Regions from separate parts of the Homo sapiens genome. Here all the other regions are linked to region 1. The links come from fine-mapping of genetic effects on gene expression. A gene starts in region 1. Each other region holds a variant in brackets. All regions are shown on one strand. Distances are between the middles of the regions. Region 1 holds the start of IL6R-AS1 (IL6R antisense RNA 1). Region 2 has its middle 21 kb from the start of AQP10. Region 3 overlaps TDRD10 (tudor domain containing 10).

Region 1 (8,176 bases):
ACAGTTGAGAATGGCCCCAACACATCAGCCCAGACCTGGAGGTTGGGGGCAGGGTGGGAATTTAAAAAGACCACTTTGAGTCAGGGTATCTGGGATCTTGACCAGCTCTGTCACCACTGCCTGTGCCATCTTTACCAAGCAACTTCTCTTCTTGAGGCCTAGCTCCTTATCTAAAAAGTGAGGGAGGAGAAGCAATGATGACCAAGTCCCTTTTGGTTTCAAAATAACCTTACATATTTATTCTGTGGGTCTCCTGTAGACTTCTGCTTTAGGCAAACTTTAAGATGCTTCATCGCTTCAGGTGAAAGGTGAGAGAGGACTTGCTTGCTGGGAGTCAGCCTAGGGCTTCCCCCTTTACAGGAGACGGAGGGTCCCTGCAGGAACACCGGTGAAGGAGAGGGTGTCCCACACACCAGGTTCTGCTCTCTGCTCTCCCCTCACAGACTACAGAACACCAAGTGCCTGCTGCCATGGTCTGCAGTGTCTTTGGTCCTGGGTGGGCCGACCGAGCCCTTGCTCAGTGAGAGTCCTGGGCCAGGAGCCAGACCTCACCCTGGAGCTGCCAGTTACTAGTAGTGCAGTTTTGAACAAGCCACTTTACCTCTGTTAGCCTCAGTCTACTCATCTGAAAATTGGGGGCAATGTCTCCCAGCATTCAGGGTTGAGAATTTCAGAGGAGATTGTGTATGTAAAGCAATTTGTAAGCAGCACAGTTATCTGAGAAGTGTTCTGGCTCAGACAACTAAAGTCTTCATTGTTCCTTCTGTTGTCTGGGTGAGGGCAGGTCAGGCTGAATTGTGCAGGTATGCTTTCTTCTCTTTCTTTTTTCTTTTTCTTTTCTTTTTTTTGAGAGGGAGTTTCGTTCTTCTTGCCCAGGCTGGAGTGCAGTGGTGCCATCTCGGTTCACTGCAACCTCCGCCTCCTGGGTTCAAGTGATTCTCCTGCCTCAGCCTCCTGAGTAGCTGGGACTACCGGTACGCACCACCATGCCCGGCTAATTTTTGTATTTTTAGTAGAGATGTGGTTTTACCATGTTGGTCAGGCTGGTCTCGAACTCCTGACCTCATGATCTGCCCACCTTGGCCTCCCAAAGTGCTGGAATTACAGGTGTGAGGCACCACGTCCGGCCTGGCCAGGATTAAATTTTTTCATGTGAACCACAACACTAAAACTTTGTATATTGCTGCGCTTATCTTACAAATCAGGAAATAGGGGTTCAGAGAAGTTAAATAGCTTGCTTAAGTCACACAGCCAGCAAGTGGTAAAGCTGGGATCTGCATGACTACAGAGCACACAGGCTCCCCACCAGTAGATTAGAGAGGGGGAGGTCTGCTTTGGTGCAGAGACAGGTGGGATCTGTGATGCCCGTTCTTGGTTTCAACATTCTTTTAAACTCTCCTATCTGAGCCTAGGACTTTCTGCAGCCTTCCTGTTTTAGGCTGGCAGCTCACAGTCCCTCTCTGGTTATTTTCAGGTCTGTGTGTGCCACAGAGAGGAAGGGGGCAACCACAGTGGGAACCGCTTTCCAGCCCTGCTGCAACCCCTTTTGAAATAGCAGGCGAGAGGGCTGGTGGCCTCCACTGTGCTCTTCTGTTCCTGTCTGTGGGCATGGCTAAAGCAAACAAGCTCACCCACACCAGCTCCCATCGTGCGGTGGATCAGTGCATGTGCTTGGTTCTGTCTGGCACTGCTGATGGGTGGTTCCTACAGAAAGATCCAGATGCACGGGGTCTGAGGACTGTTTCAGAAGCTCTGTCCGTCCATGCCTGGCCCTGTCCACTTGGGAGTTCCATTAGGCCATGCCTGTTCCAGCTGTCCCAGGATCTTTGATCTGGGTTAGGATTGGCCTGAAACCAAAGGTAGAAAAACACATTCTAATGAGCAGTTGCTGGTCTAGAAGCTTCTCAGCCTAAACTTTATTTCAGCATTTTTCTTTCCCTCCAGATTCAGCTATGAGGCCATCCTATCAGCTTTAGGCTCTGTGGGGGTCCTTGAGAGAGTTCCCCTCCAAGGGACGGACAGATGGTCCCCTTCAAGGTCCTTGTGGTTGCTCAAAAGCCAGGTGCTTGTTTCTTTCTTTTTTTCTCTCCTTCCTTTCCTTCCTTCCCCTCTATCCCTCCTTCCCTCCCTCCCTCCCTCCTCCCTTCCTTTTCTTTCTTTCTTTTCTTTTTTTTTTTTTCTTTCCAGACAGGGTCTCACTGTCATCCAGGCTGGAGTAGCAGCCCCCAATCACGGCTCACTGTACCCTGGATCTCCCGGACTCAAGCAATTTTCCCACCTCAGCTTCCCTAGTAGCTGGGACTATAGGTGTGTACCACCACACCCAGCTAATTTTTAAATTTTTTTATAGAAATGGGGGTCTCACTTTGTTACACAGGCTGGTCTAGAATTCCTGGACTGAAGCAATCCACCCACCCGGCTCTCCCAAAGTGTTGGGGTTACAGGCGTGAGCCACTGCCCCTGGTGTTAGTGTCTGTCTGTCAAGTCAGGAGGGCAGCCATGAACGTTCTGATGTCTACTGAGCACGTGTGGCCCAGACCGTGTGTCAGGTGTTTAGGTGCCATCCACAGAACCTTCCTAATAACCCTGGGCAGCATAGGCTTTCTTATCTCTGACAGATGAGGAAATGGAGACTCAGATTCTGAACCGAAGTCACAGACACAGTAGATGGTAGGTCTAAATGGGGACCCAGGTCTATCTGACTGCAAAGTCCAAACCGTTTCCTTGCCTCTGCTGCAGCCTGCGAGGAGCAGCTGGGCAGAAAGACTGTGCCTTTACGGTGGTGAGTCTTCCGATGCCCAAGCCTCACCCCAGACCGATGAAATCAGAATCTCTGGAGACCCGACCCAGACATTGGTGGGTTTTAGGGCTCCTGGCTGATTCCAGTGGGCAACCGGGCTACCAAGCACTGTTTTACCCTAAGGGTAAGAGGAACATCGCCTCCTCGAGGGCTCTCCAGGTGTGCCTTTCACAGCGTAATCCCGTTCACGAAACCAAAAATCAAAACTAGGCCACTGCCCACTGGTGGCTGATACGCCCTTTTCTCATCAACAGAACCGGGAGGAAGGGCTCTGGTGGGGCTGGCGGTCCCCTGTTCTCCCCGCTCAGGTGCGGCGCTGTGGCAGGAAGCCACCCCCTCGGTCGGCCGGTGCGCGGGGCTGTTGCGCCATCCGCTCCGGCTTTCGTAACCGCACCCTGGGACGGCCCAGAGACGCTCCAGCGCGAGTTCCTCAAATGTTTTCCTGCGTTGCCAGGACCGTCCGCCGCTCTGAGTCATGTGCGAGTGGGAAGTCGCACTGACACTGAGCCGGGCCAGAGGGAGAGGAGCCGAGCGCGGCGCGGGGCCGAGGGACTCGCAGTGTGTGTAGAGAGCCGGGCTCCTGCGGATGGGGGCTGCCCCCGGGGCCTGAGCCCGCCTGCCCGCCCACCGCCCCGCCCCGCCCCTGCCACCCCTGCCGCCCGGTTCCCATTAGCCTGTCCGCCTCTGCGGGACCATGGAGTGGTAGCCGAGGAGGAAGCATGCTGGCCGTCGGCTGCGCGCTGCTGGCTGCCCTGCTGGCCGCGCCGGGAGCGGCGCTGGCCCCAAGGCGCTGCCCTGCGCAGGGTAAGGGCTTCGGGCGCACCTGGAGGGCTGGGGCAGCTAGCGGCTGGGGGAAACCGCCTTGGTCACCGCAGTCTGTGGGAGGCTGGAGGGAGGAAAGGAGGTGCGACGGATCCCCTTTTCTGTGGCTGCCTTGAGGCCCCGCGGGTACCTAGCTGTGTGGTCGCGGGTAGTGGCTCTTGCGCCCCCTGCTGCGCTTGCTCCCTTGGTCCGGAGCGCTCCCCGGAATGCCCGGTGAAGCTGTGCGGGAACCCTGCGGTCTGTGTACAGGACTGTGTCCTTGCAAACCTGACTCTCGAGCTTCCTTCCCAGTGCCCCCAGGAGCCTTTACACAACCGCGTCCCAGGTTACTCTAAGGGGAGACTGCCCGAGAGGGCGCGCCCCAGCGGGGTGATGTACCCGCCTGGGGAGTCCTTTGTACCAGCGCCCCTCTTCTCCCTCTGCATTGGGGGTCCACCTCGCCTGGTCCTCCCCCCACCCCCGCGGGTGCATGTGTGGATGACAGTGCCCTGACTATGAAGGGACTGACATCACGGGCGCTGAGTCACGGATCTTCCCGCTGCACGGAGTCACTTTGGCAGCCACCAACTCTGGGAAGCCAAGTGCCCCAGTCCTGGGAATTGAGTCGGGAGGCTGGCAAGGGAGTGAGACCTCCTGGGGCTGGCACGTGCTGGACTCCCCTCTAGAAAAGAGAAGGACCCGTGAGGGAGAGGGCAGAGGCACTTACTGCTCCCGTTGACTGTAATCTGCCCCTGGCAAACCAGGCTTTTCTTGGGCTCTGGCCGCATGCCCAGCTGCGTGTCTAGTCTCTCTTCTGGAAGAGTTGGGCAACTGGCTCTCCAGAGGTTTATTTTAGGGTCCCAGTGCTTCTTTGAGGACACAGCAGAAAACTAAGGGGCAGCTGACAGGCTTCTGGAACAGCTGACAGGCTGGGGAGGCTGAAGGCTAAGACTTTCAACCACTAGATCACACTGAATTCCAGTCCTAGGTGAACACTGATCTCTCCCTTTGAGGAGGTGACTTTCTGCAACTAGAGGCTGAGCTGGAGTGTCTGAGGCTCTCTTTGCTTTTTGGATGGTTGTGGTCCTTATGATTGGAAGAAAAAAAGAAGGGATTCCATTTTCAATACACATTTATAACTCCTGCCAGTAACAGACACTGTTGATTGGGGCACCCATTCAATGTTTTCTAATCCTCCACTGTATCTACATATAACTTTGTTTGAAAGAGGAGACTGAGGTTCAGGGAGGTTGGGATGGCGGGATGGCAGGTTGTCAGGCCCCGGTGATGGAGGCCAACCCCTCCCGTGGCTCTGTGCTCCAGTGTGGTAGATGTCTAAGACTCTCAAATATAGAACTAGATCAGCAGGCAGAGCTGGGGGCATTGGGGCAAGCTGAGAGTCACTCTTGTCTGGCTGAGTGCTGGGACAGAAAAGGCTGAGGGAGGGAAGTGGAGGCCCAGGCTTGCCCATGGTGGTGTTAGAGGGATGCAAGACAGGTTCCAGGGCTCGGATGGCCTCAGGAGCAAGCAGGGCTCCCTTGGCTGCCTCTGCTGCTGTCACGCCAGCCCAAGGCTCCTGCCCCAGGGAGGTTACTGTTACTGCTGTAGTTGCCACCACCTGTTGCTCCTGAGTGGATGCTAGGCCCTTCCAGGGCAGCCAGTTACAGTCAGTTTTCCATTTCCCTGGTGCTCAGGAAGGATTAGGAGAGGTGGTCTCATGGCCTGAACAGCCCATGAAAGGCAGAACTGAGAGACTGGGGAGGAAGTGAAAGTCCTCCCAGCTCAGAAGGAAAATGCAGAGAAGTAGAAATACCCAGCCCCTCTCCCACACCCACACAGACTCAGCCCACAAACTGGAGAGTAAAAATAAAGAAATCGTACAGGAAGCATGGAGCAAATGACTGTGAGATGTTTCGCTTTAGAGAAGTGAGGAGCAGAGGGGGAGCAGAGGCTGGAGTTGGCTGAGAGGGGAAATCCGCAGGTACAGCCTGCGGGGCTCTTAGAGCCCAGAGGTTTGTTTTCCTCGGGATCAGCTGCCGCCCACACACCCTGGAGCTGCCAGGACTTCTCAGGTGTACTCGTTGTCTAAGGGCCTGGACTAGCTGGGACTTAGGCTTCTGCCGGTTCCAACACTCTGGTGCTGGAAGGCTGGACTTGGGTGACTCAAGTTCCCTCTTCCTACTGCAATGCAAGAAAATACACAAAAGAAGTATGTATACCTTTAAGTATCTCAAAGAGCTATCTCAGCTTCTGAATTTCCTTCTAGGGCACCTCTTCCTGCCCCCATTACCCACACACGTGCCTAGCCTCACCCTAAATCAGTATTTCTCAAAAGCTTAGTTCTGAGCCTAGCATCAGATCTGGTGTGTGTGCTGGGTGGGAGGGCTTTGGTAAACATGATGATTTTTGAACCCTAACCCAGATTTATTAAATAAGAACACCTAGGAGTGAGGCCTGGGGCATGTCCTTTTAAACAAACTGCCCCTTGTGATTCTTAGGCACTGTCAGGTTTGAGGACGGCTGCCTAAATGGTGTCATTGAGGAACTGAATGAAGGCCCTCCCGCTTCGGGCTCTCTGTTGCCAGAAATCTCTCCTTGCTTTGGCTTGCTGCTTGTTTATTCATTGCAGCAAACATTTCTTGAGTCGGTGTAGAGCCTGTGAGGCCTGTGTAGGATCAGCTATGCAGACTCCACCCTAAAAGGAGCCTGAAAATGGTCATGGGTAAATCCTGAGAAGGGCTGAGAAACCCCAGACTCTGACCGGGCCACTGGGTACCAACTACCCGTGAACAGATTGTCTGGCTTGGGGTAGGGGGTGGTTAGAGAGAGGAAGTTCCTCTGACTGAGGACCAAGATCCCAAGGCAGCAGGCACACTGATCCTGACCCTGACCCTCATCTCCAGCCCTCAGCAGCCAGGGTAAACAAATACTCCCCTCACTGGGTATTTGTAGATTACACAAAGTAACCTAGGTGCTGACTGCTGAAAATATACACTCCCTTCCCCCGTCTCCTGAATCCTGGTCCCACCAGGCCTGGAAGCCACAGACCCAGCAAGCAAAAGAGTTTCCAGTCAATGAATCTAGTCTGGATTGAAGCTGTGCTCTGTAATACGGTAGCCACTAGCCACGTGTACCTATTTAAATTTAAATTATGCCAGCGCAGTGACTCACGCCTGTAATCCCAGTACTTTGGGAGGCTGAGGCAGGAGGATCTCTTGAGCTCAGGAGTTGGAGACCAGCCTGGGCAACAGGGTGAGATGCCGTCTCTACAAAAAGATTTAAAAAATTAGCTGGGCACAGTGACATGAGCCTGTAGTCCCTGCTACTGAGAAGGCTGAGGTGGGAGAATCACTTGAGTCCAGTCTGCATGGAGCCATGTTTGCACTACCGAATTCCAGTCTGGGCGACAGGAGACCCTGTCTCCAAAAAATTAATTTAAATGAAATCAAATAAAAACTTAGTTTCTTAGTTGCACTAGTCACATTTTAAGTGCTCAACACTCACATTGCTAGTGGCTACTGTACTGAACAGTGCAGATACAGATCTCTTCCATCATCGTGGAAAGCCCTACTGGACGGTGCTGGGCTAGAGTGTTAACCAGTTTCTTCCAGAGGTTTTCTGTTCTCTTTTCCTTTATCCCCCTCTGCCTTCTGCTCTCCTCCACCTGAACACAGCTCATTTTGCATAGGTGATGGCTAAGGTCTTCAAGCCAGGCACATCTCTGCCCTGCACTGCCAAGTAAAAATGATAACACCTTGGGCAAGTGATTTAACTTCTTTGACAGCCAGTGTTCTAGAAAATAGAAATAATTGTATTACCTCGAAGGGTGGTTATGAAGATGAGATGAGCTAAGTAAGGTATTAAATAGAGTGTTTACAGAAGTCCCTAACACACAGCAAGTGCTTAAATAAGTGTAGGTGATCATTCATTCACTCCAAAAATATATTTTTGGAGTGAACACCTCCTACTCTGTTCCAGGCACTATTCTAAGAGCTGGAGATACACCATGAATAAAAGAGACAAAAACCCCAGGCTTAGTTGAGTTTCATTCTAGTGTGGGAGACTATTAACAGGATGTAAATTAAGTATGTGGTATGCTAGCGACTAGTGCTAAGGAGAAAAACTAAAGCCGAGAGGGAGACAGACCCCATGTGTGTTTGTGGCAGGGTGGGGTGGCATGGTGCCTTGGATGGGAGGCCAGGGAATGCCTTGCTGAGAACATAATATTTGAGTGAAGACCTGAAGAAAATATACAAATCTCTAGAGATTCCCTATATGTCCATCTTGGGCAGGAAAATTCTTGCCTCCTCTTTAACAATGTGTACTACCTGAGGGTGTGTTATGTTCTGGAGCAGAGGGCTCTGTGGGGACACATGGATGCTCCCTGCCCTGGAGAAGTATCTCTGGGGTAACAAGTCCTCAGCCCTTTAGCTCCTTGAAGTCTAGCAGAGGGAAGTGCTAAATGCCAGGTCATAACTGCAAGTCTGCAGGTGGGATCCTTGAGGGCTGGAGTGGCAAGGGGAAGGTGACAAAGAAAAGGCCTTTTTTTTTTTTTTAAATACAGGATCTTACTCC
Region 2 (8,176 bases), 110 kb before region 1:
ATAAATAACAAGGCTGGGCACGGTGGCTCACGCCTGTAATCCCAGCACTTTGGGAGGCAGAGGCAGGCAGATCATGAGGTCAGGAGATCGAGACCATCCTGGCTAACATGGTGAAAACCTGTCTCTACTAAAAATACAAAAAATTAGCCAGGTGTGGTGGCAGGCACCTGTAGTCCCAGCTACTTAGGAGGCTGAGGCAGGAGAATGGCATGAACCTGGGAGGCAGAGCTTGCAGTGAGCTGAGATCTTGCCACTGCACTCCAGCCTGGGCAACAGAGCGAGACTCCGTCTCTAAATAAATAAATAAATAAATAACAAAATACAAAAAATTAGCTGGGCATGATGGTGCATACCTGTAGTCCCAGCTACTCGGGAGCCTGAGGTATGAGAATCACTTGAACCCGGGAGGCAGAGGTTGCAGTGAGCCAAATTGGCACCACTGCACTCTAGCCTCCAGCCTGGGTGACAGACTGAGACTCTGTCTCAAAAAAAAAAAAAAAAAAAAAAAGAAAAGAAAGATTTAAGGGATAAAGCTAAAGCAATGCTTAGAAGAAGATTTGTAGCTTAAATGCCTTTAGTAGAAAGAAAGAAAGGTCTACAATCAATAATCTAGGCTGGGCATGGTGGCTCACGCCTGTAATCCCAGCATTTTGGGAGGCCGAGGCAGGTGGATCACCTGAGGTCAGGGGTTTGAGACCAGCCAGGCCAACATGACGAAACCCGAAACCCCATCTCTACTAAAAATACAAAAACTAGCTGGGTGTGGTGGCACATGCCTGTAATCCCAGCTACTTGGGAGGCTGAGACAGAGAATCGCTTGAACCTGGGAGGCAGAGGTTGTAGCTGGCCGACATTGTACCACTGCACTCCAGCCTGAGTGACAGAGCAAGACTCTACCTCAAAAAAATAAAAAACAAAATAAAATAAAATCAATAATCCAATCTTTCACTTCAAGAAGCTGGAAAAATAAGAGTAAATCAAACATAAAGTAAATAGAAGAAAGAACATAATAAACGCCAGACTGAAAAATCAATGAAATAGAAAACAAAAACTTTAGAGGCAGGAGAATCGCTTGAACCTGGGAGGCAGAGATTGCAGTGAACTGAGATCTTGTCACTGAACTCCAGCCTGGAGACAGAGTGAGACTCCATCTCAAAAAACAAACAAAAAAAATAATAGCCAAAAACTTTTCAAATTTGATGAAAAACATTACACATCTAAGAATCTCAATAAACCTCAAATACCTAGACACATCACGGTCAACTTGTTTAAAGACAATTGGCTACCACATATACTAAAATTTGAACAATTCAGAGAAGATTAGCCAGTCTCCCGTATAAGAATGGCATGCAAATTTGTGAAGCACTCCATATTTTTACATGTAAATAAAAGAAAAAATAAAAGCAAATGTACTATATATATAGAGTAATACTACTAGTTATTTGGAAAGATCAACAAAACAGACATATCTTTAGCTAGATTGCCCAAGAAAAGAGGAAAGAACATACACATTACCAAAATCAAGAATGAAAGAAGGGACATCTTGTCCAAGTGTGGTGGCTCATGCCTGTAATCCCAGCAGTTTGGGAGGCCGAGGCGGGCAGATCAAATGAGGTCAGGGGTTTGAGACCAGCCTGGTCAACATAGTGAAACCCTGTCTGTATTAAAAACACAAAAAAATTAGCCAGACGTAGTGGCGAATGCTTGTAGTCCCAGCTACTCAGTAGGCTGAGGCAGGAGAATTGCCTGAATCCAGGAGGTGGAGGCTGCAGTGAGCCAACATCATGCCACTGCACTCCAGCCTGGGCGGCAGAGTGAGACTCCGTCAAAAAAAAAAAAAAAAAAAAAGAAAGAAAGAAAGAAGGAAGGAAGGAAGGAATTGTAGGGAATTTAAATGATATGGAGAAAACCCTAGAAAGAGACAAATTAACAAAGCTAACTAAAGAAAGAAAAAAAGAAAATCCAAATAGACCTATACCAAGGAAAAGGAAAAGAATTTGGATTTAAAATCGTCCCACAAGAAAATGCCCAGGTCCAGATGCTTTATTGCTAAATCATGTCAACACTTAAAGAACAGGCCAGGCACAGTGGCTCAAGCCTGTAATCCCAGCACTTTGGGAGGTGGAGGCGGGTGGATCACCTGAGGTCAGGTGTTCAAGACCAGCCTGGCCAACATGGTGAAAGCCTGTCTCTACTAAAAATACAAAAATTAGCCAGGCATGGTGGCGCACACTTGTAATCCCAGCTACTTGGGAGCCTGGGGCAGGAGAATCACTTGAACCCGGGAGGCAGAGGTTGCAGTGAGCCAAGATCGCACCACTGCACTCCAGCCTGGGCAACAGAGCAAGACTCTGTCTCAAAACAAACAAACAAACAAACAAAAAGCAAAATAAGAGGATAAAGAGAGGCCAGGTGTGGTGGCTTACGCCTGTAATCCCAGAACTTTGGGAGGCTGAGGTGGGCGGATCACTTGAGCTCAGAAGTTCAAGACTAGCTTGGACAACATAAGGAGACCCCCATCTCCACAAAAAAATTTTAAAATTAGGGCCAGGCAAGGTGGCTCATGCCTATAATCCCAGCACTTTGGGAGGCAGAAGCAAGCAGATCACCTGAGGTCAGGAGTTCAAGACCAGGCTGGCCAACATGGTGAAACGCTGTCTCTACTAAAAATACAAAAATTAGCCAGCCATGGTGGCAGGCACCTGTAATTCCAGCTACTCAGGAGGCTGAGGCAGGATAATCGCTTGAACCCGCGAGGCAGAGGTTGCAGTGAGCTGAGATCGCACCACTGCACTCCAACCTGGGTGACAGAGTGAGACTCCATCTCAAAAAAAAAAAGAAAAAAAAAATCTGCTAAAATTACTTTGTATTTATATACAAAAAAGAGTCACATTCTGAGATCATATAATTATAAACAAGTTTTTCACCTATATGCACTATGGTAGGACATTCTAAAGTCATGTAGGACATACATAGAACAAGTCTTTGTTGCGTGTCTTGCAGAATGTTTAGAATATCTGGACTCTGACTACTAAATGTAAGAATTACTGCCCCTTTCCCACCCATTGTGAAACAACATTGACAAAAATTCTGACTACAATTTTTTTTTTTGAGACAGGGTCTCTGTTGCCCAGGCTGGATTGTAGCAGCGTGATCTCGGCTCACTGCAGCCTCAACCTTCTGGGTTCAAGCAATTCTCCCATCTCAGCCTTCTGAGTAGCTGGGACCACAGGCATGCACCACCATGCCTGGCTAATTTTTGTATTTTTTGTAGAAAAGGGCTTTTGCCATGTTGCCCAGGCTGGTCTCAAACTCCTGGGCTCAAGCAATTTGCCCACCTCAGCTTCCCAAAGTGCTGGATTTACAGGCGTGTACTCACACACCTGGCCTTACAAATTTTCAAAATTCTCCCTATGAGATAGTAGTATTCCTGGTTTTAAAAACTGGTCTAGGCCAGGCACAGTGGCTCATGCCTGTAATCTCAGCACTTTGGGAGGCCAAGGCGGGTGGATCACCTGAGGTCAGGAGTTTGAGACCAGCCTGGCCAACATGGTGAAACCCCATCTCTACTAAAAATACAAAAAAAATTAGCTGGGAATGGTGGTGGGTGCCTGTAATCCCAGCTACTTGGGAGGCTGAGGCAGAAGAACTGCTTGAACCTGGGAAGCAGAGGTTGTAGTGAACTGAGATCACGCCATTGCACTCCAGTTTGGATGACACAGAGCAAAACTCTGTCTCAAAAAAAAAAAAAAAAAAAAGGTCTAATAGAAGTTCTTCTACCTGGAAACATGAGTATGTGGTATAAGAATAATAAGCACATATTACTTTAGAAACTATGAAAATAAAACCAATTTTTTCTTCTTTTTCAAAGTGACAGGGGAGAGATCTCGATGCAGGATATGGTGACTTTTTTTTTTTTTTGAGACAGGCTCTCACTTTGTTACTCAGGCTGGAGTGCAGTGGCCGAGATCTTGGCTCACTGCATCCTCGACCTCCTGGGCTCAAGTGATCCTCCCACCTCAGCTCCCCAGGTAGCTGGAACTACAGGCATGCTCCACCATGCCTGGCTAATTTTTTGTATTTTTTGTAGAGACGTGGTTTCATCATGTTGCCCAGGCTGGTCTCAAACTTCTGAGTTCAAGCAATCCACCCACCTTGGCTTCCCAAAATGCTAGGATTATAGGCGTGAGCCACGGCACCCAGCCGTATATGGTGACTTTTGATATTCTTTTCTTTCCTTTTGATTTTTTTTTCTTTTTTTTTGTAGTGATGGGGGTCTTAGTATGCTGTCCAGGGGGCTGGTCTTGAACTCCTGGCCTCAAGTGATCCTCCCACTTCAGCCTCCCAAAGTGTGGAGATTACAGGCTTGAGCCACCGCACTCAGCCCTAAATGTGTTTGTTGTTTTTTGTTAAAGAGCCGGGGCTGCTCTGCTTATGGAGTAGCCATTCTTTTATTCCTTTACCAGAAAAAGAAGAATAAAAGAGCCAGGCCTGAATGGGGGTATGTCTCACTATGTTGACCAGGCTGGTCTCGAATTCCTGGGCTCAAGTGATTCTCACGCCCGGGATGGAAGGCATGAACCACCGCGCCCAGCCACTTTACTTCTTCACAAGTGTATCTCTGAAGATCACTGCCACATAAACCTTCTACATGGAACTCTCCATATCAGGGCCTGTTTCCAGGGAGAACCAATCTAAGACATTTAGTTTTTCCAACCCACACACTTTGTACCATTAGCCACCCTCCTTGAGTCTTTCAGGTTAAAGAATATCAAAAGTCAGACTGGGTGTGG[C/T]AGCTCCTGCCTGTAATCCCAATACTTTGAGAGGCTGAGGTGGGATGATCACTTGAGATCAGGAGTTCAAGACCAGCTTGGGCAACATAGTGAGACCCCCATATCTACCAAATAAATAAATAAATAAATAAATAAATAAATAAATAAATAAAAACATTCAGAACAGGGATCTCTGAGGGAAGAAAATATTTTAAAAACCAATTTTGGTGGCGGGGGACAGTCATGCTCTGTCACCCAGGCTGGAGTGCAGTGGTGCGATCTCGGCTCAGTGCAACCTCTGCCTCCTGAGTTCAAGTGATTCTCCTGCCTCAGCCTCCTGAGTAGTTGGGATTACAGGTGTATGCGCCAACACACCTGGCTAATTTTGTATTTTTATTAGAGACAGAGTTTCACTATGTTGGTCAGGCTGGTCTCGAACTCCTGACCTCAAATGATCCACCCACTTCACCCTCCCAAAGTGCTGGGATTACAGGCATGAGACACCACACCCAGCAGAAAAAAAAATTTTTTTTTAAGTTAAGAAGGCAGAATTGAGCAGAGGGAGTAGCTGACACACAATGTGGTTGCAGCAGAACCTTAACTGATCCTTGGATTTTACAGACAGCCCTGGAATGAAGATAATTTTTCAGAGCTGTCCCAAATGAAGGCAAAGGGACCATGATTTTGTGTCACTGCATTAGCCAATCATTGGCTGCAGGAAAGAAAGGTCAAAACAATTTCCTGTGGCTGATGGTAATGTCCAGTGAGGGAGGCAGCGGTGGGCCATCAGTGGCTGATATTCCTAGCAGCTGGGGAGTAGGCTTATGATCCTAGAAAGGGAATCTGGGTGAAACACCGGTGTTTTCTACAGTTTACCACTTGCACTACTCAGATCCTTTTTTTTTTTTTTTTGAGACAGAGTCTCGCTCTGTCGCCCAGGCTGGAGTGCAGTGGGGCGATCTTGGCTCACTGCAACTTTGCTTCCTGGGTTCAAGCAATTCTCTACCTCAGCCTCCCAAGTAGCTGGGATTACAGGCGCCTGCCACCACACCCGGCTAAATTTTTTTGTATTTTTAGTAGAGATGGGGTTTCACCATCTTGGCCAGGCTGGTCTTGAACTCCTGACCTCGTGATCCACCCGCCTCAGCTTCCCAAAGTGCTGGGATTACAGGCGCGAGCCACCGCATGATTCATTCTTCTTTTTGTTGTTGTTGTTTTTTGCTTTTTGAGACAGCGTTTCACTCTGCCGTCCAGGCTGGAGTGCAGTGGCACAATCTCTGCTCACTGAAACTTTTGCCTTCCAGGTTCAAGCGATTCTCCTGCCTCAGCTTCCGGAGTAGCTGGGATTACAGGCGTGCACCACCACGCCCAGCTAAATTTTCTTTTTTTTTTTTTGAGACGGAGTTTCGCTCTTGTTGCCCAGGCTGGAGTGCAATGGTGCAATCTCAGCTCACCGCAACTTCTGCCTCCCGGGTTCAAGTGATTCTCCTGCCTCAGCCTCCTGAGTAGCTGGGATTACAGGCATAAGCCACAATGCCCAGCTAATTTTTTTTTTTTGTATTTTTAGTAGAGATGTTGTTTCACCATGTTGGCCAGGCTGGTCTTGAACTCCTGACCTCAGGTAATCCACCTGCCTCGGCCTCCCAAAGTGCTGGGATTACAGGCGTGAGCCATCGCGCCCGACCCAATTCATTCTTCTTATAGTTAGTTTGCCCTGTTGGGGAAAAGCATCTATAGCGTTCTGATTGGTTTCATTTCCTGGGGGAACTTTGAGAGAAGGATTAAGTGGAAAAGTTTATAGCCTTTTTACTGCTGCAATTAGTTTTGAGGTTCTAAGAACTTCTCATTATCCCCTCCTGTACCACTAATGCCAGATTCTCCTCACCTTTGGCTAGCACTTCTGCTGGTCTAGAGAGCTGGGTAGCAGAGTGACCCAGACCCTAAATCCTGAGAGTGCCTTTGGTTACCATGTGGCTGCTATACTTTTCTATTTACTGTTAGAATTCTTTTCTATTTACTGTTAGAATTGATCACAGTAGCACCAAGAGGCATCCCAGTGGATGACCTGAATGCCAAAGTATTCTTCCTGGCCAGGCATGGAGGCTCACGCCTGTAATCCCAGCACTTTAGGAGACTGAGACAGGAGGATTGCTTGAGCCCAAGAGGTTGAGCTTGCAGTGAGCTATGATCACGCCACTGCAGTCTAGCCTGGCTGACAGAGCAAGACTGTCTTTAATTTAAAAAACAAGGCTGGGCGCAGTGGCTCATGCCTGTAATCCTTGCACTTTGGGAGGCCGAGGTGGGTGGACCACTTGAGGTCAGGAGTTCGAGACCAGCCTGGCCAGCATGATGAAACCCCATCTCTACCAAAAATACAAAAAATTAGCTGTGCACGGTGGCGCGCACCTGTAATCCCACCTACTCAGGAGGCTGAGGCAGGAGAATCACTTGAACCCAGGAGGTGGAGATTGCAGTGTGCCAAGTTCGCGCCACTGCACTCCAGCCTGGGCAACAAGAGCAAAACTCCATCTAAAAAAAAAAAAGGCCAGGCACAGTGGCTCACACCTGTAATCCCAACATTTTGGGAGGCCGAGGCAGGTGGATCACTTGAGGTCAGGAGTTCGAGACCAGCCTGGCCAACATGGCAAAACACTGTCTCTATTAAAAATACAAAAATTAGCCAAGCTTGGTGGCATGCGCCTGTTATCTCACCTACTCAGAAGGGTGAGGCAGGAGAATCGCTTGAACCTAGGAGGCGGAGTGTGCAGTGAGCCGAGATCGCGCCATTGCACTCCAGCCTGGGTGACAGAGTGAGACTCCGTCTCAAAAAAAAAAAAAAAAGAACTTGGCACAGTGGCTCATGCCTGTAATCCCAGCATTTTGGGGGCAGGCAGATCACCTGAGGTCAAGAGTTCAAGACTAGCCTGGCCAACATAGTGAAACCCTGTCTCTACTAAAAATACAAAAATTAGCCAGGCGTGGTGGCGGGTGCCTGTAATCCCAGCTACTTGAGAGGCTGAGGCAGGAGAATTGTTTGAACCTGGGAAGTGGAGGTAGCAGGTCAGCTGAGATTGTGCCATTGCACTCCAGCCTGGGCAACAGAGACTCCATCTCAAAAAAAAGAAAGATCAGTAGATCCTTTTGTCACATGCCCACTGCCATATCCCCACTGCTGTAATGTTGATCTTTTAGAGTAATGTAATTCAGATTTCATTGTTTTCCATGTTTTTTTTTTTTTTTTTTTTTTGGTTATTGTTGTTGGAGTCTCACTGTGTGGCCCTGGATGGAGTGCATTGGCATGATCTTGGCTCACTGCAACCTCTGCCTCTCAAGTTCAAGCAAATCTCCTGCCTCAGTCTCCCAAGTAGCTGGGATTATAAGTGCGCACCACCATGCCCTGCTAA
Region 3 (8,176 bases), 130 kb after region 1:
CTCTTAGGGTAGGTCTGCTAGTAACAAATTCTTTTCCTTCATCTGAGAATGTCTTAATTTCCCCTTCATTCCTAAAGAATATTTTTTTCTTTTCTTTTTTTTTCTGAGACAGAGTCTTCGCTCTTGTTGCCCAGGCTGGTTGGAGTGCAATGACACGATCTTGGCTCACTGCAACCTCCGCCTCCCGGGTTCAAGTGATTCTCCTGCCTCAGCCTCCCGAGGAGCTGGAATTACAGGCACCTACCACCATGCCCGGCTAATTTTTGTATTTTTCGTAGAGAGAGGGTTTCACCGTGTTGGCCAGGCTGGTCTTGAACTCCTGACCTCAGGTGATCTGCCCGCCTCGGTCTCCCAGAGTGCTGGGATTAGAGGCATGAAGTGTCTGGCCTAAAAACATTTTCATTAGATAAACAGTTTTTTTTTTCAACACTGGAAACATAATTGTACCACTTTCTTCTGGCTTCCATGGTTTCCTTCTTTTTTTTTTTTTTTTTAAGTTTTTTTCATTAAATTTTTTTTTTCTTTTGAAACAGAGGTGGGGTTTCACCATGTTGCTCAGGCTGGTCTTGAACCCCTGGACTTAAGTGATTCACCTGCCTCAGCCTCCCACAGTGCTGAGATTACCGAGCTGAGCCTCCATGGTTTCTGATGAAAAATCTGTTGTCATTCAAATGGTTTTTCTCTGCATTCAAGATTTTTGCTTGGTTTTTAGTTTTCAGAGTTTAATTGTGATATGTCTTGGCATTTCTTTGTATTTTTACTGTTGTGGGTTCACTTGCCTGTTTGAATCTAGGTTTTCTCGGTCTACTGTCTTTCTGTTGCTCAGACTGCATAATTTTTATTGCTGTGCCTTCCAGTCACCGGTTCTTTCTTCTGGGCCTCCAGTCTGTTGTAGAGTTTACCCACTGAGCTTTTTATTTTGGTTATGGTATTTTTCAGTTTAAATTTTTTTTTTTTTTTTGAGACGAGTCTCACTCTGTCACCCAGGCTGGAGTGCATTGGCACGGTCTTGGCTCAAGCGGTTCTCCTGCCTCTGCCTCCCAAGTAGCTGGGATTACAGGGACCTGCCACCACGCCCAACTAATTTTTTTGTATTTTTAGTAGAGATGGGGTTTCACCATGTTGGCCAGGCTGGTTTTGAACTCCTGACCTCAAGTGATCCGCCTGCCTCAGCCTCCCAAAGTGCTAGGATTACAGGTGTGAGCCACCACGCCTGGCCTAAAATTTCCATTTTTAAATACTGTTTTTGGCTGAGACTTGGTTCATTTGTTTTAAGGGTGCTTGTCATTGCTCCTTGAAGCATTTTGTCGTGGCTGCTTTAAAATGTTTGTCAGGTAGTGCCAGCACCAGTGTCGTCTTGGCATTGGCAGGTATTGTCTTTTTGTGTCTGGAATTGGTGGGTTCTTGGTCTCACTGACTTCAAGAATGAAGCCGCGGACCCTTGCGGTAAGTATTACAGTTCTTAAAGGCAGCATGTCCAGAGTTTGTTCCTTCTGATGTTCGGATGTGTTCAGAGTTTCTTACTTCTGGTGGGTTCGTGGTCTCGCTGGCTCACGAGTGAAGCTGCAGACCTTCGCAGTGAGTGTTACAGCTTTTAAGGCGGCACATCTGGAGTTGTTCATTCCTCCCAGTGGGTTCGCGGTCTCGCTGGCTTCAGGAGTGAAGCTTCAGACCTTCGGGGTGAGTGTTACAGCTCATAAAGGCAGTGTGGACCCGAAGAGTGAGCAGCACCAAGATTTATTGCAAAGAGCGAAAGAACAAAGCTTCCACAGTGCGTAAGGGGACCCGAGTGGGTTGCCACTGCTGGCTCGGGCAGCCTGCTTTTATTCCCTTATCTGGCCCCACCCACATCCTGCTGATTGGTCCATTTTACAGAGAGCTGATTGGTCTGTTTTGACAGGGTGCTGATTGGTGCGTTTACAATCCCTGAGCTAGACACACAAGTTCTCCACCTCACCACTAGATTAGCTAGATACAGAGTGTCGATTGGTGTATTCACAAACCCTGAGCTAGACACAGAGCGCTGATTGGTGTATTTACAATCCCTTAGCTAGTCATAAAGGTTCTCCAAGTACCCACTAGACTCAGGAACCCAGCTGGCTTCACCCAGTGGATCTCGCACCGGGGCCACAGGTGGAGCTGCCTGCCAGGCGGGTGCTGTGCGCCCACACTCCTCAGCCCTTGGGTGGTTGATAGGACCAGGTGCTGTGGAGCAGGGGGCGTTGCTCATCGGGGAGGCTCAGGCAGCGCAGGAGCCCATGGCGGGGTGGTGGGGAGACTCAGGCATGGCGGGCTGCAGGTCCCAAGCCCTGCCCTGCGGGGAGGCAGCTAAGGCCTGGTGAGAAATCAAGCGCAGCACCAGTGGGCCAGCACTGCTGCGGGACCTGGTGCACCCTCCGCAGCTGCTGGCCTGGGTGCTAAGCCCCTCACTGCCCGGGGCCGCTCTGAGTGCGGCCCGCAAAGCCCACGCCCACCCAGAACTCTAGCTGTCCTGCAAGCACCGCGCGCAGCCCTGGTTCCCACCTGTGCTTCTCCCTCCACACCTGCCTGCAAGCCGAGGGAGCCAGCTCTGGCCTCGGCCAGCCCAGAGAAGGGCTCCCACGGTGCAGCGGCGGGCTGAAGGGCTCCTCAAGCGCGGCCAGAATGGGCGCCGAGGCTGAGGAGGCACCGAGAGCGAGCGAGGGCTGCGAGGGCTGCCAGCACGCTGTCGCCTCTCATTTTTTTCATTCCATGTGAAATTTTCCTGGTTCTTGGTATGATGAGTGAGTTTCACTGGAAACTTGGACATTTTCTTGTTACGTTGCTAGACTAGATTTTGTATACACCTTGTGTTTTAACTGGCTTCCTCTGATGCTGCTCCCACAGGGGAACACGGTACTGCCTCGCTGCTGCCAGGTGAGGATGGAAGTCAGGCTCCCTACTCAGCCTCTAAGGCGGCAGCGAGCCCCTTGTTACTGCCAGTTCTAGTTTGTGGTCTCCACTGACATCTTGGCGTGGATGGCTTCATTACCGCTGAGGAAAGTCTTGACTCTCCACTACACTTCTGACACCCCCCCCAGTAGGGAGAGAGAGGGGGGCTTTCTCTCTGTGAGGTGGGTATGGAAGTCCAGGATTCCCAAGTGGTTTCTATTGACACCCAGGCAGGGTGGTGGTAGGGAGAGACCGGTTTCTTTATTGGGTAGGGGATGAAATTCCTGGCTGCCTGCTTGGCCCTTTGTGACACCATCAGGGTGGGGGTATTGGGCGACTCATCCCAGCCCCATGAGGGCAGAAGTCTGGGCCCTGCATGCTGTCTTTGTTGGCATGCGTGGAGGTGGGATCTCCTTGTTGGTGGCATTTAGCTGGAGTAAAGGAGTTATTATCTACAAGCTTTCTGTCTTCCTAGCCTGTCTCTTCTGGTGCTTTGGCTAGAAAGAGCAGGCTTTTGTTGGGTTTTTTTTTTTTTTTTTTCTGGACCTACTGGTGTTTCTGGGTTGCTGGCCTCTTCAATTCTAAGTTTGGAATATATAAAGCAAAAGGAAAACCCAGAGAAGTCATCACCACGTTGTACCCTGGGTTCCAAGGTCTCTGGTCAGCCTGTTCCCTTCTCTCCATCTTTCAGAGTCTTCTTATGTTTGTTTTACATGTAATGTCCTGGGCTCTTAGTTGTGTTTAACAAAACTAAGATGAAGTATGTATATTTCATCTTCTCAGAGTGGAGGTTCTAAGAATGGTTTTTATTTATTTATATTTTTAGAGCAGGGTCTTGCTCTGTTGCCCAGACTGGAGTGCAGTGGTGTGATCTGAACTTACTGCAGCCTCGAACTCCTGGGCTCAAGCAGTCCTGCCTCAGCCTCGTGAGTAGCTGGGACTACAGGCGTGTACCACCATGCCCAGCTGATTTGGCCTCAAGCAATCCTCCTGCTTTAGCCTCCCAAAGTGCTGGGATTGCAGGGCAGCCACTGTGCCCAGCCATATATATATATATATATATTTTTTTTTAATTTTCTATTGTTTGTAGAGATGGGGTCCCACTATGTTGCCCAAGCTGGTCTTGAACTCCTGGCAAGCAATCCTCGTGTCTCCACTTCCCAAACTGCTGGGATTATAGGCGTGAGACCCCCCAGCCGTATTTTTAAATGGGAAAAAAAATGAAGAATATTTCATGACACATGAAAATTGTATGAAATTCAGTTTGTGTCCATGAAACATTCCTGGCATGCAGCCTCAGCCATTTGTTTACAGATTGCCTGTGGCTGCTTCCTCACTACAGCAGCAGAGTGGACTCATGACAGACAGTAAGGCCCCCAAAATCTAAAATATTTACTATCTGGCCCTTTGCAGAAAAAGTTTGCCAGTTCCTGGGTTAAGATCTAGGCTATTTTTTAAAAAACAAAAATAAACAGGATGAAAATGCCTGGAAATCAATGCAAGAAAGAAACAACCTAATAGAAAAATGGGCAAGAGCTAGGAATAGGCACCTTTTGTAGGTGAAGATGCATAAAAGCCAGGCTGCAACTTTCCCGTTGCTTACCACGAGGTGGCAGTTTCTGACAACACCTGGTGGTTTTCCATAGCCTGCTCCGATCAAGTCAGCCACCTTTGATGCTCCTGGTTTCCATGGCTTTGCCCATCCTGGTAGAACTATCCGCTGAAGGAGTGGGGAGTGGGGAAGCCCCAGATGCTCACTGTTTTCGTACAAAGGTCAGTCGTTGTTGTTATTGTTTTCTTTTTAATAGATGTTTTCAATTTCTTGTATGCTTCAGTCAATTTCCAGAGTCCTGAAGTGATTGTTTTTGACAATTTGTCAAGA[T/C]TTGTTATTGCTTTTTGGGGAGAGGATTTGTTGATTGAAATATTTTGTAGTGAAATTGTTTTAAAGAAAAGAAAAGGTAAAATTAGAAGATAAGCTTACGTGGCACAACACGCATCCAGGCAGTGTTCAGGTCAGCGTGGGGGAGAGATTATCAAATGATATAAGATAATTTCCCATGGGTGAAGGATGTGAGTTTTCAGATACAAAGCAGCCAATGAGTGCCCAGGATAATGAATGGGAAAATAAAAACCTACATGAAGGCACTTTACAGAAGTATTTTAGAATACTAGGGATAAAGCTTTAGGAAGAGAATCCACATTGAAGGATATGGAATCAGGTGGTGTGATTGAATTCTTCAGGAAAATAATATCCAAGCCCAAACAAGTCAGTCAAGAATAAGGGTAGCACTTTGGGAGGCCGAGGTGGGCGGATCACTTGAAGTCAGGAGTTTGAGACCAGCCTGGCTAACATGGTGAAACTCCATCTCTATTAAAAATACAAAAATTAGCCAAGCGTGGTGGTGCACACCTGTAATTCCAGCTACTCGGGAGGCTGAGGCAGGAGAATCCCTGGAACCTGGGAGGCAGAGGTTGCAGTGAGCTGAGATCATGCCACTGCACTCCAGCCTGGGCATCAGAGTGAGACTCCATCTCAAGAAAAAAAAAAAAAGAGAGAGAGAATATAAGGGTAAGCCATCTGCAGTGGTGTGTACCTGTAATCCCAGTGCTTTGGAATTTGGGATTTGGGAAGCTGAGGTGGGAGGATTGCTTCAGGCCAGGAGTTTGAGAACATCCTGGGCAACCCTGTCGACAAAAAATGTGCCGGGTGTGGTGGCACACACATGTAGTCCCAGCTACTGGTGAGGCTGAGATGGGAGGATCACTTGACCTGAAGGAGTTTGAGGTTGCAGTGAGCTATGATTGTGCCAGCACTCCAGCCTGGGTAACAAAGTAAGACACTGTCACTTTTAAAAAAAGGTTGAAAAAGACTTGCTCAGAAAGATAGGGTCTCAAAAAATGTGTGCCCCATGTACCTGTTCTCAGAAAGCTATGAAGGAGTGTGTTCCAACAAAAATGAATCAGTAAGCCAAAACAAGACGGGATCTGGTATCCAACCCAGATCCAAGAGGAGAGAGATGAGAGGCTTCCCAGATTGGCCAAAGGCAGTCCTGGAACAGTTGCTGTGCAGCAGGCAGTCCAGGGCAGAGCAGGACGGGGTGAGACTCCAGCGGTGACGTTGGCAGGAAGAAAAATGTAAAATTGAGAGGAGCGGTATTATGAAGAGCCACTGGAGGTTATAGGAAAACTTAGCCAAAGATTCAAGGAAATCCAAGTAAATGGACTGGGGAAAAAGCAGCAGTTAATTCCTAAGAAAAGGTTGCAGGCCGGGCGCAGTGGCTCACGCCTGTAATCCCAGCACTTTGGGAGGCCGAGGTGGGTGGATCATGAGGTCAGGTGTTCGAGACCAGCCTGGCCAACATGGTGAAACCCCGTCTCTACTAAAAATACAAAAATTAGCTGGGCGTGGTGGCACATGCCTGTAATCCTAGCTACTCAGGAGGGTGAGGCAGGAGATTTGCTTGAACTTGGGAGGCAGAGGTTGCGGTGAGCTGAGATTGTGCCGTTGCACTCCAGCCTGGACAACAAGAGCGAAACTCCATCTTAACAAAGTTGCTTAAGAATAAAAATAACACATAACTTGATTCAATAGGATTTGCAGTCACATAATAATGAGAACACTGGAGGCTTTGAGCAGGGGGTGACATAGCCAGATAGAACCCATTCTTATATTTTAGAAAATCAACTTTGTTGAAGTATTCGATATACTTACTGAAGTATAATTTACTTAAAGTGAACCCATTTAAGTGTACAGCTTGACGAATTTTGACCAGTGCGTGCAGCATGTAACCACTGTCACAATCAAGATAGAGAACATTTCAGTCGCCCAAAAGATTCCCCCTTCAGGGCCCCCAGCAGCCCTCAGCTGTTGTCCATCCTTTCGATGAGATGGAGCTTTTCCAGCGTGTCCTGTAAATGGCATCAGGCTGTGCGTGCTTCTTTGTGTCTGGCTTCTTTCATTCAGTGGAATGTTATTGAGATGCATCCATGTGGTTGCACCATCAGCAGTTCTTTTTTTATTGCCAAGTGATATTCTGTTGTATCATGTGCCACCATTTATTCGTCCTTGCACCTAGATTTAACTTTTAAAGGGACCCTTTAGAACCCACTGGAGGAGGCCAGAATGGAGGCAGGAAGACCTGTTTCTGGCAGTCCGGGGAAGAGATGAAAATATCTTGTCACACCAGCCCTGGGGCGGCCCCCCAGACAAGCCAAGTACATCCCCACCTTAGGGCCTCTGGACCTACTATTGTCAGCCCAGAAGGCTCTTCTCCCAGGTGTCTATAGGGTTTGCTGTCTCCCTTCATTCCGGGCTCCACTCAGCAGTCACCACCTCAGGAGGACTTTCCATGAGACAGCACCCACCCCTGGCACCCTTCATCCCCTGTCTCTGACGTTTGTCTCTTCATCCCTCTTGCTGCCAGCCAAAGACATTATTCCTCTTTGTATACTTATTTAGTGTCTGCTGCCCCCACCAGAACGTGAGCTTTGTGGTGGCGTTTTATATTTGTGGGTGACTAAAGGGGGGCTCCCTGAGGAGCCCACGCAGAGGTCTTTGTCTTTCATCTTTGTCTTTTTGTGTCTAGCACATAGAAGTGCAAGTGATTAAAGAATGAGAAGGAAGCAGTTGAGGTTGAAGCTGCACATGCAAAATTTCCACCAGGATGGGCCCCTCAGGTGTTCCCAGGTGCAGTTCCCCAGGTTGGTGGAGGTGAGGGTGGGTGTAGACAGCGCTTAAAGAGAGATGGCCCAGGGTTGTGGCAGCGAGCAGACTTGGAGGCTGCAGGTTGGGACACTGCCTGTGTTCTGGGTGTCATGAGGCTGTACCCTGCTGAGTGTATGCAAGAACTTCTCCCTGGTGTGTGGAGGGGACTGGATGGATGGTCCCACCTCCAAGCCTTCTGGCCACCAACCTTTGTATTTTTGTTTCTCCTCTCCCACTGCACGGACTCCCCAGCATCACTCTGGAGCAGGCGCACCTCTTAGAACACTTGACCACCTGGTAGAAATGTCCCAGAACAAAGTAAAGGGATAATTAAGAGCTGTTGATTGATCTGGGCATGAGGGTGACCATGCTTGTAGCAACAATGGAACTTAATTAAAATTAACTGCTCTTGCAGCTATTGAGGTGCTGCCTTGATGTCTGTGGCTTCCGTGTGGCCACCTTTGTATTACAGACACGTCGGAAATTGGAGGTCTGTGTTTAGGTGATGTGCCTGCTGTGGCTGTTGGATGATAATTATGTAGATTTTCCTCTGGAACTTAA

What was found. PIP is the estimated chance that this variant, and not a neighbour inherited with it, causes the effect.
Region 2: its variant is fine-mapped to the expression of IL6R-AS1 in whole blood (TOPMed, PIP above 0.99).
Region 3: its variant is fine-mapped to the expression of IL6R-AS1 in whole blood (INTERVAL, PIP 0.92).

What each region holds. Positions count from the first base shown.
Region 1 is chr1:154,402,111-154,410,286 of GRCh38, forward strand. It overlaps IL6R-AS1 (IL6R antisense RNA 1), which reads right to left and starts at 4,454. Exons shown (of 2, transcript NR_147855.1): 1 at 4,329-4,454; 2 at 211-1,847. It overlaps IL6R (interleukin 6 receptor), which reads left to right and starts at 3,233. Exons shown (of 10, transcript NM_000565.4): 1 at 3,233-3,604. The coding sequence starts at 3,520. RefSeq lists silencers at 3,038-3,167, 3,368-3,517 and an enhancer at 3,757-4,363.
Region 2 is chr1:154,296,372-154,304,547 of GRCh38, forward strand. It overlaps the pseudogene RNU6-121P. Among named protein-coding and RNA genes, the nearest start is that of AQP10, 21 kb to the right of the region's middle. The variant C/T (reference allele first, on the strand shown) is at 4,794.
Region 3 is chr1:154,529,922-154,538,097 of GRCh38, forward strand. All of the region lies in intron 6 of TDRD10 (tudor domain containing 10), which reads left to right. Among named protein-coding and RNA genes, the nearest start is that of UBE2Q1-AS1, 20 kb to the right of the region's middle. The variant T/C (reference allele first, on the strand shown) is at 4,793.